Regions from separate parts of the Homo sapiens genome. Here all the other regions are reported to be linked to region 3. The links are microRNA targets in miRTarBase. Many come from high-throughput screens and were not tested one by one. Region 3 holds a microRNA gene; each other region holds the end of a gene's coding sequence.

Region 1 (5,000 bases), not on the chromosome of region 3:
GATGGGAATACTTTTGTGGAATGAAATCAGTGGGTCTGGTAAATTCAAGCCAGAGCCCACATGCTCCCCAGGGCTGTGCCGCAGTAGAGGCCGGTGGCGGGTGGCGGGTGGGGGCCCGGGTGCTGCCCCAGTCCACCTCCTGGGTTGCGGCTGCTAGGCGGTGGCTCCGGGTGACTGTGTGCTGTCTGTGTTCCAGTGTTTGTGGGCTACCTGTGCATCGTGCTGCTCATGCTGCTGCTGCTCATCTTCTGGATCGCGCCGGCCCATGGGCCCACCAACATCATGGTCTACATCAGCATCTGCTCCTTGCTGGGCAGTTTCACCGTGCCTTCCACCAAGGGCATCGGGCTGGCGGCCCAAGACATCTTGCATAACAACCCGTCCAGTCAGAGAGCCCTCTGCCTGTGCCTGGTACTCCTGGCCGTGCTCGGCTGCAGCATCATCGTCCAGTTCAGGTACATCAACAAGGCGCTGGAGTGCTTCGACTCCTCGGTGTTCGGGGCCATCTACTACGTCGTGTTTACCACGCTGGTCCTGCTGGCCTCAGCCATCCTCTTCCGGGAGTGGAGCAACGTGGGCCTGGTGGACTTCTTGGGGATGGCCTGTGGATTCACGACCGTCTCCGTGGGGATTGTCCTTATACAGGTGTTCAAAGAGTTCAATTTCAACCTTGGGGAGATGAACAAATCTAATATGAAAACAGACTAGATTGCAATAGGAGCTTGGATGGTTCGAGGAATAGGCATTGGAGGTGGTTTCTGGCCGTGATTGGATGTGAAGTAGAAGAGGTCCTCGATCATGGTGTTAGAATTGACTGGATAGTAACAGGTGGTCTGGTGGATAGCGGGGAGCATGGCTCAGCACCAGAGCAGAGGCCCAGCCAGCCCTCTGCAGCCCAAACGTCCCCAACGGTTGCCTGGCACCATCTCTCTCTGATGAGACGAATCTCATTTTCATTTCCATTAACCTGGAAGCTTTCATGAATATTCTCTTCTTTTAAAACATTTTAACATTATTTAAACAGAAAAAGATGGGCTCTTTCTGGTTAGTTGTTACATGATAGCAGAGATATTTTTACTTAGATTACTTTGGGAATGAGAGATTGTTGTCTTGAACTCTGGCACTGTACAGTGAATGTGTCTGTAGTTGTGTTAGTTTGCATTAAGCATGTATAACATTCAAGTATGTCATCCAAATAAGAGGCATATACATTGAATTGTTTTTAATCCTCTGACAAGTTGACTCTTCGACCCCCACCCCCACCCAAGACATTTTAATAGTAAATAGAGAGAGAGAGAAGAGTTAATGAACATGAGGTAGTGTTCCACTGGCAGGATGACTTTTCAATAGCTCAAATCAATTTCAGTGCCTTTATCACTTGAATTATTAACTTAATTTGACTCTTAATGTGTATATGTTCTTAGATTAGAATAATGCAACTTCGAGTATGCTTTAATATTTCAATATTCAAGTTACAAATGTATAAGGCAGTTAGAAATAATACAGTCACATGTCACTTAATGATAGGGAAACATTCTGAGAAATGCATTGTAAGGTGACTTTATTGTGTGAACATCATGGAGTGCACTTATACAAACCTAGATGGGACACCTATGACCCACCCAGGCCAGATGGTACAGCCTGTTGCTCCTGGGCCACACACCTGTACAGCATGTGACCGCACTGAATACCGCAGGCAATTGTAACACAGTGGTGAGTATTTGTGTTTACAAACATAGGAAAGGTACAGTAAAACTATGGTATTACAATGTTATGGGACCACCGTCATGTAAGTGGTATGTCTTTGACAGAAACATGGTTACGTGGTTCATGACTGTATATTCACTGGAAGATAGTCAAGACTAAAGACACATTAGAGCAAATTGACCCCTTTAACATGTGATTATTGTCCAATTAAAGACAGTTGATTTAAGTAGCATGAGGTATTATTTTATTTGTATTCGATCTGTGTTACCTGGGATCCAGTATCAAATATATCCACATTCTTTATCAGCAAGCATTCATGGCCATTCAGAAGAAATAAATTAGGTAACTTGATAATAAGGCTAAGTGGGAGAGTACCTGTTCAATAGCTCATATATCGAGTACCCTGTCATACAGGAACAAGTTAAAGGACACAATTGAGGTTAGGCTAGCTTCTACAAATTGCAATATGCAGTTTTTGAAAGATTTTCTAACAAAAAGCCAATAAATGTAGCCATCTCCTTGTTGTTTGCAATGGCAGAGCATCCTAGAGTTCCTCAGCTAACCTCTCATTATGTGTCTTAAATGCAAAAGAGCCATTAATTATGCCAGTATTTGAATCAAAGAGGTCATTCTCTGTCTATAGTGTTCCCATCCATGTGTTCCAAATGGGAGCATAGCATGAAGTGATGCACATATTTCACCACGGTATCATGTACTTCATGGCCAGTGTTTTATCTCAGCAGGGAACTACGCCAAGTTGAAAGATGGGGTTGGGTAAAGTAGATTAGGTGAAGTAGAACATAAAATTGAATAGTACCCAATTAAAGTTCCTCAGTAAGAAAAAAAATGTGTTTTTGTAGGCAAAAAGAACATTTCTAAAGTCTCAAGGAATAGCTTCCTAAAGTGTTGAGTAAAGAGGCTAAATAAAATGAGACTAGTTTAATATAGAGAGAAAAATACCTTTATGGAGTAAACGTGTACATGATGATCATGGGTTGTCAGTGATTTGTGAACTGAGAGCAGCAACAACATTATTTTTTAAAAATCTTAAATCCTCTCAATGGATGGTTAACAAATGCTCAAAGTCCATTACTCTTTTTATTGGCTCTTGCAGGTTTTGTGTTTTATCATCAGTGCTTTTAGAAATGCAGGCCTTAACTTACTGAACTGAACTTTCTGAAAACGTAATGTAGCAGTATCAATATACTTTTGGGCATAAAAATAGTTTCCTAGGTAAGGGGTGTGAGATATTCAAAGAATACATGTGGCTAACAAGTGTAATGAGAAAGTTCATGTGTCACATGAAAATGATCATGTTTGTGTTGCTACAGCTTTTGTGGGAAATTTAGTTTAAAGGCAGCTCTTGGTGTACCTTAGTATATTTTAATCCACAATTATACCATTGATACTGAGAGGTGATACCCGATGATCTTCTCTATAATATTCTTAGAGTAAAACAAAATCTCAAAAGTATTAATAGCTCTTCTACCCTTGAAGGTGACTGGTCCTGGGACAGTTAGAATCTTTCAGGTTTACCTCTGTTCAGCAGATACTTCAGTAGGATACATAGCTTTTCTTCCAGTGAAACAAAGTTCATATCATCCATTGTTTTTCAAGCACGTGACACCAGCCTCAAAGTAAATGACATGACCAGTGGTTGAACAGTCTAATTTTCAAATTTAATATAGAGCATATAACTTCTGATTTGATAGTATTTATTTTAAAAAATTATGTTTTCATCATTCATTTGAAAATGAAAAAGCCCCAAAGTGAGAACTTTGGGGGAGGGCCTAGAACATGGATAGATCTCTTAGTGGTCTTTCCAAAAGTACATGTACTTGAAATATTTTCATTATCATACTATTCTTTGAAAAAAAAGATGCTTACTGTATACTTGTTTTCAAGCATCCTCTAAAATCAAAGGTTTTGATCACAATATGCAGATTTCTCTTGATAGATACTTAAATAGGCTATTTCTCTCCTCTTCTTGGGCAATGCCTTGTTTTCTCCTCTGAATATTTGCATTTGAAAGGATTGCTTCCTGTTCTGCTCATTGATCAAAGGTAGGGCCAATTAAGGATTCTAACCCTAACCCAGCACCACAAAGCCCCCCTGGAGCATCTTCCCGGCTGGCAGGACCATGCCATCTCTGTGGAGAAGGTGCTGGGGAGGGAAGTCCTTCCAGTGCCACATGGAGTGAGGCCCTGCCCATGCTGGGGACTTTGGGGAGGAATTTGGTATTCTGGTGGCCTTGCTCAGCTCTCATTGAGATCTTTTCCTATCAGAATGTTAGTGAATATACTTCGCAGCTCTTTGTTCAGCAATAAGGAATATTCTTTCAATTCCTGCTCTTCAAGCCAATTTACTACACCCAGTTGTCTTTCCAGAAGTTCATCCCAGCGGTAATATGTTGGTGTTTGTTCTTCTTTGGATTTCACATCTGTTTTCTGGTAGAAGTGAGCACTGTTCACTTGTGCAGTCGTCTTATTTTCCTTCTTCCTAGATGACTCAGCTCTTTGTAAATGTTGTGCTCAACTTCTAGGGGCCAGTTCTAGACTTTGGAGATGCAGTGTCTCCCAGGTGTGCACGGACACCTGGTCCGTGGAAACAGGTGTGATGGGCACAGGCTGCTGCCCTTCTGTCTGGTCGGGGGATTCCTCTTCTTCAAGCTGCTCAGCTAACCCAGAAGAGGGGAGAGAGTACTCCGGTGGTTCCCAGAGCCCCTCCCGTTGTGCCGCTTCGACCTGACACCTGCTCGATGCTGACTTAGGCTTCCTGCCACCAAGCAGGAAACTAGAAAGAGAACATTTCAGTGTAAGGTCTGTTCCCGACAGCATGGATTAGCTTCCGTGTTCTGAAGTTGTTCTTTTCATGGTGTCTGACACCGAGGGCGTTGTTCGTCCATCAGGCGGGATTGGATGGAGTCTTGGTGTTTTGCCTTCTCAGGGACCAAAAATGTATCATTGACTCCTTAACAGTGACCTTCCTCCCAAGGACATATCCGTGTTCATTTTTCATAGGTTTTACTCATATTCATAGGTAGATTCTGTTAATGTGAGTTGGAAAGAAAAGACCAATTTGTACACCAGTCACACCACAAGACAGTTTATCATATAAAATACCTCAATTTTTTGTATTCCTCATTTCCACCTCACAATTGTACTGGTGATGAATTTTAAGGGTCTGTCCTTTAGCTTATAGGTGATGTTTCACATCTGGCCAGATTCTTATACCTCCATTGTATACTTGAAAAGGTTCAGAATTACAGGAACAGCAGTGAGAATTTGGCCCAC
Region 2 (5,000 bases), not on the chromosome of region 3:
AAATCTAGTAATTATTTTAAAGGTAATATTCCAAAGCCAAAACAAAACTGTGGGGAATGGGAGAGGTCTTTGTTTCTTTCTGATAGATGATTTAAAATGATCTGCTATTAGGGACACTTCATCCCTTAGATGACCTATGGGGTCCCCTGCGTTACTAACAAACAGCAGCAAGCGATCAGTATCTAACTCCGTGTCACTCTCTGAGAGCACTGTGGCATCAAGAAAGGTGTCCCAGGAGACCTGGCCTAGGCGCCCTCTCTGTCGCCAAGTTAATTGCATGGCCTTGGGCAAGTCACTCCACCCCGAAAGCCTCAGTGTGTCCATCTGCAGAATGGGGCTGCCACCTCCTCTCACCTGATGTTATGGAGATGAACGGAGTACGTGCAAAAGCTCGAGGGGCTGCCTGGATGGCCCGACGCACTGCCTTGGGCCAGTACACACAGTGTGGGGCCTACCTGGACATGGTGCTGGGGAGCCTTCGGGTCTTCAGGCGGGGAGTGGGGGCCGGGGAGAGACGGGTAGCACTGGGTGGGGTCCACTTTCCTGGGAACCTGCTTGGTAACTGCGTTTCCTCTGTGTTTCTTCTGTAGGAAGGCCAACAGCTCAGGAGAAGCCATGTCACTGGGGAGCCACAGCCCGCAGAGTGACTCCCTGACACAGCTTGTCCAGCAGCCGGATATGATGTATTTTATTCTCTTCCTGTGGCTCCTGGTGTACTGCTTGCTGCTCTTCCCACAACTGGATGTTAGCAGGCTCTGATACGTGTGTCTGGATAATAAAAAAGACAGGACCCTGACCAGGGGCGGGGTTACTTCATTTTATTTTGGGTTCTGGGTGGGGCACTTCTACAGACAGTTGAGGACCTCCGAGGAAACTTAGACCCCCTTTCTCGCTATTGTGGTTTTTTTTTTTTTTTCAGGTTTCCTTTTTTTTCTGGACAACCTGAGCATGCTTTTTTCTTTGGCTGTGTACTCAAAACTCAGGCATGCAGCTGGATCCGTAGGTGGGGTTTTGTCCTTGTGTGCCTTGCTGGGTTGGATAGGGAGCATTGTTAGTGATCATTAGCCCGCCTGGATCTTAGCACACCCCACATTGCAGGTTCACACGCTGGATGAACTTGAGTTTCTTACCTCTCAGATGAAGGGCTGCTTAATGAGAAAGAGGGTGGGCACCCCAGGCCAAGCCCCAGCTGGGGAGAGAGCTGCCACGTTTTCCTCCAAGCGTGGGTGTTTGAGAGAAGGTGCTGGGGTCCATGCACCTGTCGCAGTCCGGTAACTGGTTGCATTCACTAGGGGAAATCCGAGCAGCCAGCTCTGTGTAAGCACATCCAGGAATGGCAGAATCCAGGGAGGAAGGTGAAAGCTGTGTTGAGAGCCACTGTGTGCTCTTTTTCACCCTGTTTTTTTTGTTGTTTTTTTGTTTTGTTTTTTGTTTGAGGGGAGATAACACTTGAAATTCAGTTTTCCATTGATTGGATTGAGATAGAACCATGATTTTCAAACCAGATCGCCAGGGCCCAGCAGGGCCATATAAAAGCCATGAGGAGTGGCTGGGCTGGAATCAGCTCCCAGCAGTGCTGGAGCTGGGTGGTGGGGTAGCTTCCTGCCCACTAAAGCTTTGGTGCACACCTCCCTCAGAATGCATGTCTTGGAACGGGCATTCTTTGTGGTCACTTGTAATGGGTTTCTTGAAGAGGCTTTCTGGACAGCACTCCGGGAGCAGGCCAGCACAGGAGGTTTGTGAAAGAAGAGAGGCATCTCTAGCACCCCTGCCCCCAGTCTTCCTCAGCCCCAGGCTCCCTCTGCTCTCTCCTCCCTGCCAAGACTCAGGTCCGTGGTGAGTCTCTGCATTGGTTCCTCCTCCCCTTGCTCTCCCCTTCAGAAAGCATGTACCAGGCAACCCTTATAAAATCACAAATGAGTCAGGAGGGGACTCAGTGAGCATCTTGTCTAGCTGGACCCAGAGAGACAGAGCAGCTTGACCAAGATCATATAGCCGACCAGGGGCAGACTTGCAGTGAGCACACAGGCACCTGATGCCCTGTCCAGAGCTGTCACCCCTTGTAGGAAACTTCCACTGGGCACACCAATGTCCTGAGAAAAAGATAAAATGACTAGATTAAAATGTCCACATTCAAGCAAAACCAAAAAGTTTAGACCAACTATCGACATTTGTTTTGTTCTTGTATTTTTCCCATGAGGAATTCTTACTCACCTTCAAGCTCATCCCCAATTCCTTCTGAAATACCCTTGACAGCTGCAACAGCTTGTCATTTGACATACCAGCGTCGCTCTTACTCCAGGAATCACGTTTCTTTCTTTGCTAGCCAAGGACTTGCTCATTTCAAGCAGTGGGTTTCAAGTTTACAGAATTCCAGCATGGCCAGAAGAATTTACATAGCACATCTGAGTCGATGACAGCCAAAATCTGGCCTCTAAACCAGTCTGATTATAGTCTGTCTCCCCTCCTGAAAGAATTTCAGCCTTCCAACCAGAAAGCTGCTGGGAGCTTGGAGTGATTCCATCTGGAAGGCCAAGAGCCCCATGGAAAATGAGCTAATTAATGAGCTCCCTGGCATCAATGAAAGCTCAAAGGTACAGATAATAAAGATTATGTGATAGTTTATAACTCTGGGCACCATGCAGTCCTTGCCTAAATTAGATGCTCGAAGAGCCTGGGAAGAGCCAACCCAAATGTGAATCATTTCATTTTATGGGTCTAGACCTTGTTCAGAAAAACCTCTGCAAGATACTTCTCTCACCTATTACAACTTGTAATATTGTTTAAAACATCTACTGGCAAGATGCCTGAAAGTCATTTGGTTCAGGTTGGCAGTCAACTGATATTTTGCAAAGGAAAAAAAAATCTCATTTGAGTATAGGCTTCTATGGAAGAAGCTGGATATAGAAAATGGATGTGGAAGTCTGCAGGACAAACCACCCCATTGCTTGTAAATTTTTTTTAAATTAAAAGAAATACAATAAGGCTTTTAACAAGAACTAGCAGTCCCCTAAGTCTCGCTGCTTAGAAGTAACCACTTTCAACTCTCTTATGTTTGCATTTCTACATAACGTGCTTACACTTTATTTTTTAATTTAGAAACATCTACTGGCTTGCTGTCACAGTAGAGGAGGATTTCACTCTTACCATACCGTGCTTTGGTTTTCCAGTATAGCTAGATCACATCATTTAGTACATTTCTATTAGGTGTTGACATTACCTGGAGCACTTAAGGATTGTTGACTCCCAAGCCCAGCAGTGTGTTATGGTTACATGTCCTTTCTCCTCCAAATGTCCCCATTAATTTGCTATTCTCTCTCTTTACTTTTTTTTTTTTTTTGGTGTGGCACATTCTTTAATAACTTCCTGAGGAAGAGAACATGGGAAGTAAATATGGTTGTAAATATTTTGAGATTTTTGCATGACTTAAGATGTCTGTATTCTGCCCTTAACAGAAATGTGGCTGAGCATAGAATGACAGGTGGAAAATAATACCCTCCCCTAGCCCCTCCCAAGCGTGCTGGTTGAGATTTCTGATGCCATTCTGATTCCCGTACCTTTATATGTGACTTAGGTTTTTTTATCCACCCTTCCTGGAAACATTTAAGATCTCTTTATTCTTGGTGTTCTGAACTGTCATGATGGTGTTGTATCCCGGGTGTTAAACCTTGTGCTGGGCCTTCATGGGAAATTTCTTAAATTTTCTTGTGATTATTTACATTCTTTCTTTCTGGACCACCTATTATTTCAATGTTGGACCCTCCCCTACACCCAGGCTGATGCTCTAATATTTTTTATCTTTTCTATTTTTCGTCTATGTTTCTGATCTGCTTTCAGGAAGAATTATTCATTTTTATCTTCCCAATCTGAATGTTTTATTGAATTTTTATTTTCCAAGTTAATAAAACCTTTGGTTATTATCCTGTCTTTGTTTTACAGTGTCCTGCTCTTGATGCGTGGATGCAGATTTTGTCTCTCTGTGGACGTTAATGATTGTGGTCTGAGGGGAAGTCTTTTCTGCTCCCTGTGTTGCCCTCATTTTCTCTGAGTTCTCTTTATTTTGGTGGTCTCAGTCTCTATCTTTCACGTTGTGAATTTTTCTCAAATATATGGTGATCCTATGGATCTGTTCATGTTTTAAGAGTGAGGCATCCAAAAGCTGATTGGAAGTTGTGTGTGCCAACTGGTGAGCTTTTCCACTAGGGTCACCAGGTGGGCACCTGGACTCATCATTGGAGAACACTGCCTGTCAGTATTTGCACGTGTTTTCTCTGGGGCTCATTCTGTTTCTTGAGAGATATTCCCACTACTCTCCTTCCTGGGAAACGGGCATACACAGGGCTTTTAGCCTATGCTGAGTACTCATGTGGTTTCAAAAATGGTGTCCCATCTGGGCAGAAGTCCCCATGAGCACTTGGCTTGACTGGCAAAGGACACCTTTTGCCCCTTCCTCCAGACATACCCAGCTCTGAGCTTGGACAATGCTCGAGGAACAATGAAAAGGCTAGATTTTAACTCCTAATTGCCCTCTTTAGCCAAGTGCCTCTGTGCAATGCACAACTGTAGGACCATATCCAGAGACCCTGGTCTATACTCAGTGTGCCCGAGTCCTGACCGCTGAGCAGGCAGCCTCATCACCCGTGAGTATTTAGACTTTCATTAAGTTGCTTCAACCTTTGCTGTGCCTGGTGTCCCTGAGTTGGAGCTGCTCTGATTTCTCCATGGAGTAGGAGCACAGTGGTCATCTGGCTGCATGGGAAGGACAGGGGACCTCAGAGCCAATAAATGCCCTGGTCTTCAGCCCCATGTCTCACCCCATCCCTCCTATTCCAATCCCCAAGCCTCTCCTGGAGGCCACAGGGCATCTCTGCTGACCACTCTGTGGCCTCCCCTCTGCAGGCATGTGGTTTTAGGATCCCCCTCCCTGCTCACTTTTCCATCAGTTCCATTCCTGCATAAATAGGTTGCTAGCTCTTGCTTACTGTTCTCTTCTGTATTCT
Region 3 (5,177 bases):
GGCCCAAGGCCCAGGGGTTCCACCTCGTAATTTTTGTTTGTTTTTAAATAAGGAAAATGCAAAAAGCGAGGCGACGGCTTAAAGATGGAGAACGACCCCCAGGAGGTGAGTGCCAGGTACACAGTGGGTAGCAGTGGCTCAGGGCCCCGGGGTGCGTGAGCCGGTGCCCAGCGCTTCACACGCTTTTGACCCCAACCACCCCAGTTATGCTGTGGCCACGGGGGCCGCTGGCCTTCCCAACTGCTCTGAAAACCCCACACTGCCATGGCTGTATCTGGGGGTGGCCGGCTCACCTGCACTCGACAGACATCACGTTGGACTGACCCCTATTTGCATTTGAGTGACCTGAGAGGTATTTAAGTGAACTCGCCAAACTTTTATCCCAGTCTCGGTGGGCTCGGCCCTTCAAAGCACAGGACACATCTCGCAGCGCCATGGGCGTGAGTTTCGCTCACCGGAGCCACCTGGGGCCAACCCAACCTGAGCCCGACACACCCAGGGCCTCGCACTCTCCGTGCGGTGCCTCCCACTCCCTTTAGAGCATGGGGTGGAGTGACTCTGCCCACAGCACTGCAGCTAACCCTGTTTGTGGGCACTGGAACCTTCCGGAACGCACATCTAGCTGAGGGCAGCTGGTAGTCCAGCACCCACTTCTATTTTCGAGTGGTGGTTTGGTTATCCGTGAGGCCTGGGGCGGACACTGCTGTGATCAGTGGGAGGTCCTGGGTAGGAGGCTTGTTCAGGGAGCCATCAGCGAGGCTGGTGTTGACCGTCAGACCCTTTGGGGCAAACCTATGTTTAGCTATCCCATCTCTTCAGCATATCGTTTCCAAATGGAAATGGCTGTTATCTTTTCAGATTAGAAGACTATCCAGCCTTTTCTAAAACTGTGGGCCACACGGGTGGGGCCCAGCCTGGGCCAGTCTCACACCTGTTCCCTCCTGTCCCCAGGCGGAGTCTGAAATGGCCCTGGATGCTGAGTTCCTGGACGTGTACAAGAACTGCAACGGGGTGGTCATGATGTTCGACATTACCAAGCAGTGGTAAGAGGGAGCTGGCGGGGGCAGCTGCCTGTGACTCTCACCCCCCTAGCCCCTTGGGCGCCCTCTTTGTGCAGCAGATAATGGTTAGAGCAGCATCGTTCTGCAGGACCGAGGGACTCTTGCTGGGCAGCTGTGGCAGCTCAGCCACAAGGGGCACTGGCCTGGATGTCGGGCTGGGCAACGACTATGCCTGTGCCTATGGGGCGGGATGGCGTGGGCCGGCTGCAAAAGGCATCTGGGGCAAGGCACGCACCTTCCATAGCCCCACTGTTCTTCCTGAAAACCCATCTGAGACTTGGCGGAAGCAAGTGGCTGCTTGTGCTGGGGGCTCCCCGCGACCTCCGTCTTCATGACCTAGGAGGACCCACAGCCAAGATTCATTCTAGCAAGAAGATGACAGCGAAATCAGCTAAGGGCAGTGGCACACAGGACGATCTCTGGGGGACCAGGCGCAAGCCCCCAGAGTCCACTGTGGAGTCGCATGGGATCCACTCAGCTCCTCAGGAGTGCAGTGTCCCCCAGGACGCACCGGAGCCCCAGCGGGGGGGTGCTGCGGACGCACACTTGGCACAAGGCTCCTAGAAGAACGAGGGCCGCGTGAAGACCAGTGTCCTGGTGCAGGGCCCCTCCTAGCCACAGCCAGTGCCCGGAGCACCAGGAGCAGCATGCCCGACACGTCCAGGCATCTGCTCTTCCCAGCAGTGGGTCTGGCCTGGGGGCCTAGTCAGCAGCTTCTCTTACTTGGGAAGACCCCCACACCAGGGTTAAGCGTACCGCCTGTCACGGGGCCGCACACTCAGCACGCATCAGCAGCCCAGGCCTGAGGGCGGCTTGAAGCACCTGACCAGCCATGCTCTGGGCCTCTGCCAACCTTTGCCAATGCTGGGAACCATGCCTGCCCTCCCAGCCTTCAGCACCACCACCAAGGACTGACCGCAGGCACCCTCAGGAGAGCCCTCGGTGGGGGTGTGGCACACGGATGGCAGGAGAACCACACACGGGGCTGGCGGCCCCACCCCAGGGCACGAGTTCAGCTCGGGCGCACACGCTGGCCTCACCTGGGCGAGCAGTGGTGCTCCTCTCCCTCCGGCCTCTCCTGTCTAGGCAGCAGGCCAGCCTGGTGGGTGGGAAGTGGCTTTTCCCAAGCGAAGTTGAGTGTGGACACAGTGTGGCCTCCACGGCACCTCCCACTGCTGCCACAGGAACGGCCTGGAGGGAGCTGCAGCCGCCTGGGCTGCCGTGCGAGGAGTGGGCGGGAGTGACAGCGAGACTTGAGCCAGCCTGAGAAGACGCGGCAAAGGCGCTTACCTGTGGGCCCGGAGACCCTGTTGGCAGCACCAGCCTGGGCAGGCGATGCCTATGGTAGCAATGCTCTGTCTGGAGCCCCTGGTGCCCAGCAGGAAGGATGGAAAACACTGGCTCAGACAGCGGCTTCAAGCACCACGCAGGCCCTTCACAGCCACGAGAGGCAGGAGACACCAGAAGGCCACCTGCTTAGGAGGCCAGAGGTGCCCCTGGGCCGGCCTTGGTGAGGGGCCCGTTTAAATGACTGCGTGTAAATGAAAGAAAATGAAGTTAGAAACAGGATGTTGCATTTTTTACTCCCTTATGTTGGCTTTCAGTCGTGGGGAAGTTTTGTCACTTGAAGCGCTGGTTATTTCTTCACAAGCCATTTGGAAAACCACGCAGCTGGGAAACTGGCAGTTCCACGCCAGGCAGACTCTGGAGACTTGCCGTCCGTGCCAGGAGATGTCTGCTTAAGACAAGGCTCTCCAAACAGCCCGCTTCACCGGCAGCCGCAGAGGCACCCCAGGGTGTCCTCGGCTGCCCCGGTGGGCAGGGAGCCTGGAGGACCAGCCACAGGGTCGACACCAAGGGGCACAGAGGACAGTGCGGAATGAGGGTGGACACAGATGAAGCCAGAGGTGGTTTTGTAGGGATGCGGACATGGGGTGCTCTGAGGGAAGGCAGGGACAGGCAGGGGCGTTCCAGTGTGGGGTGCGGTCAAGTACCTGCCGTCAGGGAGAGGGACGGGCGGGGGCTGCAGGCTGAGGGGTGCGAAGGCCCTCGAGGCACTTCCCTCTAGCTCTGCATGCACGAGGCATGCTTCTGCTGGGTTGGATGTTGGAAATGAGAAGCAGCCACCATCCTCGGGCCTGGGCGCACAGCACCTTTCCAGGGAGGGACAGGGCGTCGCAGGGCTGAAACTAAGCCAGGTCCTCACCTGTTCTCCGAGGACCTTCAATTACATTCTCCGGGAGCTTCCAAAAGTGCCCACCCACGTGCCAGTGTGCGTGCTGGGAAACTACCGGGACATGGGCGAGCACCGAGTCATCCTGCCGGACGACGTGCGTGACTTCATCGACAACCTGGACAGGTGGGTGCGGTGGCCCTGCTCCCGAGGGACCCTGCCCGGTGCTCCGGTGTGCGGGGGAGGGTGCTGAGGCAGAGGCCCAGGGAGGGGTTAACGTTAGCATGGGGCCCGGCGGATGTGGGTCTCGCCGCTGAGTGGGGCTCACTGAAGCCTGGGTCTCCCCGATGGCAGGGCCGGGAACTGTGTGCTGGGGAACTGTGTGCCAGGGTGAAGTGCTGGCACTGTGGGGTCACCTGCAGAAGGGCACTCGGCTTAGCTGCTTAGCAGGGCTCAGCAGGGTCCTGTGGCCTCAGGAGCCTGCAGGAGGAGGGAGGGCAGTGCGGACCCACAGCTGTGGGCCCAGGGGTGATCCTTGGCACCAGGGCAAGGGTCTTTCTCTTGCATCTTTTTTCCTTTCTGAAAGCAGACCTCCAGGTTCCTCCTACTTCCGCTATGCTGAGTCTTCCATGAAGAACAGCTTCGGCCTAAAGTACCTTCATAAGTTCTTCAATATCCCATTTTTGCAGCTTCAGGTAAGCACTCACCACGTGGGGTGGAGTGGCTGCTGGTCTCTCACCTCCTTCCAGGTGTCTCCTGTGTAGCAACGGGTCTCCCTCCTAACCCCTGAGAAAGCTGTGGACCTGCTCGGAGATTGGCTGCTGGCAAGGGCCCAGCGTTCTACTGCACCTGCCTGCTCTGGGTGGCAGAGGGTACAGGGTCCTGAGGGCTAGACCCAGTCCCAGGAGCCCCTCCACCTCTGCGGGGACCCCTTGCTCAGTTTCCCCCAGTGTTTTTGGTTGTTTTTGTTTGTTGAGATAAGGTCTTGCTGTGTGGCCCAGGCTGGAGTGCAGTGGCGCAATCATGGCTCACTGCGGCCTCAAACTCCGGGGCTCAGGCAATCCTCCCACCTGTCTCCCAAAGTGCTGGGATGCCAGGCGTGAGTCACCGAGGTACTCGCTGTTCACATCTCACATTTCCCTGGTGCTTGTGTCAAAACCAAGGAACCAACTTTGGCCTACGGACTAAACTCACTTTCCTTTGTAGAAACAAGGGCCAGGCCAGCTGTGGCTGCAAAGTAGCCCAGCAAATGATGAGGCTTGAACCTCCTCGCCCTGGGCTGCCCTGATTGGGTCTGGGGGACCTGAACCTCCTCGCCCTGGGCTGCCCTGACTGGGTCTGGGGGACCTGAACCTCCTCGCCCTGGGCTGCCCCAGCTGGGTCTGGGGACCTGAACCTCCTCGCCCTGGGCTGCCCCGCCTGGGTCTGGGGACCTGAACCTCCTCGCCCTGGGCTGCCCCGCCTGGGTCTGGGGACCTGAACCTCCTCGCCCTGGGCTGCCCCACCTGGGTCTGGGGACCTGAACCTCCTCGCCCTGGGCTGCCCCAGCTGGGTCTGGGGGACCTGAACCTCCTCGCCCTGGGCTGCCCCAGCTGGGTCTGGGGGACCTGAACCTCCTCGCCCTGGGCTGCCCCAGCTGGATCTGGGGGACCTGAACCTCCTCGCCCTGGGCTGCCCCGCCTGGGTCTGGGGGACCTGAACCTCCTTGCCTGGGCTGCCCCGCCTGGGTCTGGGGGACCTGAACCTCCTCGCCCTGGGCTGCCCCAGCTGGGTCTGGGGGACCTGTACCTCCTCGCCCTGGGCTGCCCCGCCTGGGTCTGGGGGACCTGAACCTCCTCGCCCTGGGCTGCCCCGACTGGGTCTGGGGGACCTGAATCTCCTCACCCTGGGCTGCCCCAGCTGGGTCTGGGGACCTGAACCTCCTCGCCCTGGGCTGCCCCAGC

Evidence for each region. The annotated mature microRNA hsa-miR-4292 reads CCCCUGGGCCGGCCUUGG and lies in region 3 at 2,555-2,572, shown strand. An mRNA with a match to its seed (bases 2 to 7 or 8) in the 3' UTR can be bound and repressed. Matches are read on the target gene's strand: a 7mer-m8 pairs with bases 2 to 8, a 7mer-A1 pairs with bases 2 to 7 and ends in A, and an 8mer does both.
Region 1: miRTarBase lists NIPA1 as a target of hsa-miR-4292. The part of its 3' UTR that is shown has no 7-base or 8-base seed match.
Region 2: the mRNA of CLMN is a reported target of hsa-miR-4292. Seed matches in the 3' UTR shown: 7mer-A1 at 1,344-1,350.

What each region holds. Positions count from the first base shown.
Region 1 is chr15:22,823,532-22,828,531 of GRCh38, forward strand. NIPA1 (NIPA magnesium transporter 1) reads left to right here. Exons shown (of 5, transcript NM_144599.5): 5 at 197-5,000. The coding sequence ends at 708. Among named protein-coding and RNA genes, the nearest start is that of NIPA2, 13 kb to the right of the region's middle. RefSeq lists an enhancer at 3,358-4,110.
Region 2 is chr14:95,187,323-95,192,322 of GRCh38, reverse strand. It overlaps CLMN (calmin), which reads left to right. Exons shown (of 13, transcript NM_024734.4): 13 at 591-5,000. The coding sequence ends at 759. Among named protein-coding and RNA genes, the nearest start is that of DICER1-AS1, 32 kb to the right of the region's middle.
Region 3 is chr9:136,828,442-136,833,618 of GRCh38, forward strand. It overlaps MIR4292 (microRNA 4292), which reads left to right and starts at 2,516; the gene lies at 2,516-2,582. It overlaps RABL6 (RAB, member RAS oncogene family like 6), which reads left to right. Exons shown (of 15, transcript NM_024718.5): 4 at 53-105; 5 at 952-1,043; 6 at 3,280-3,420; 7 at 3,824-3,929.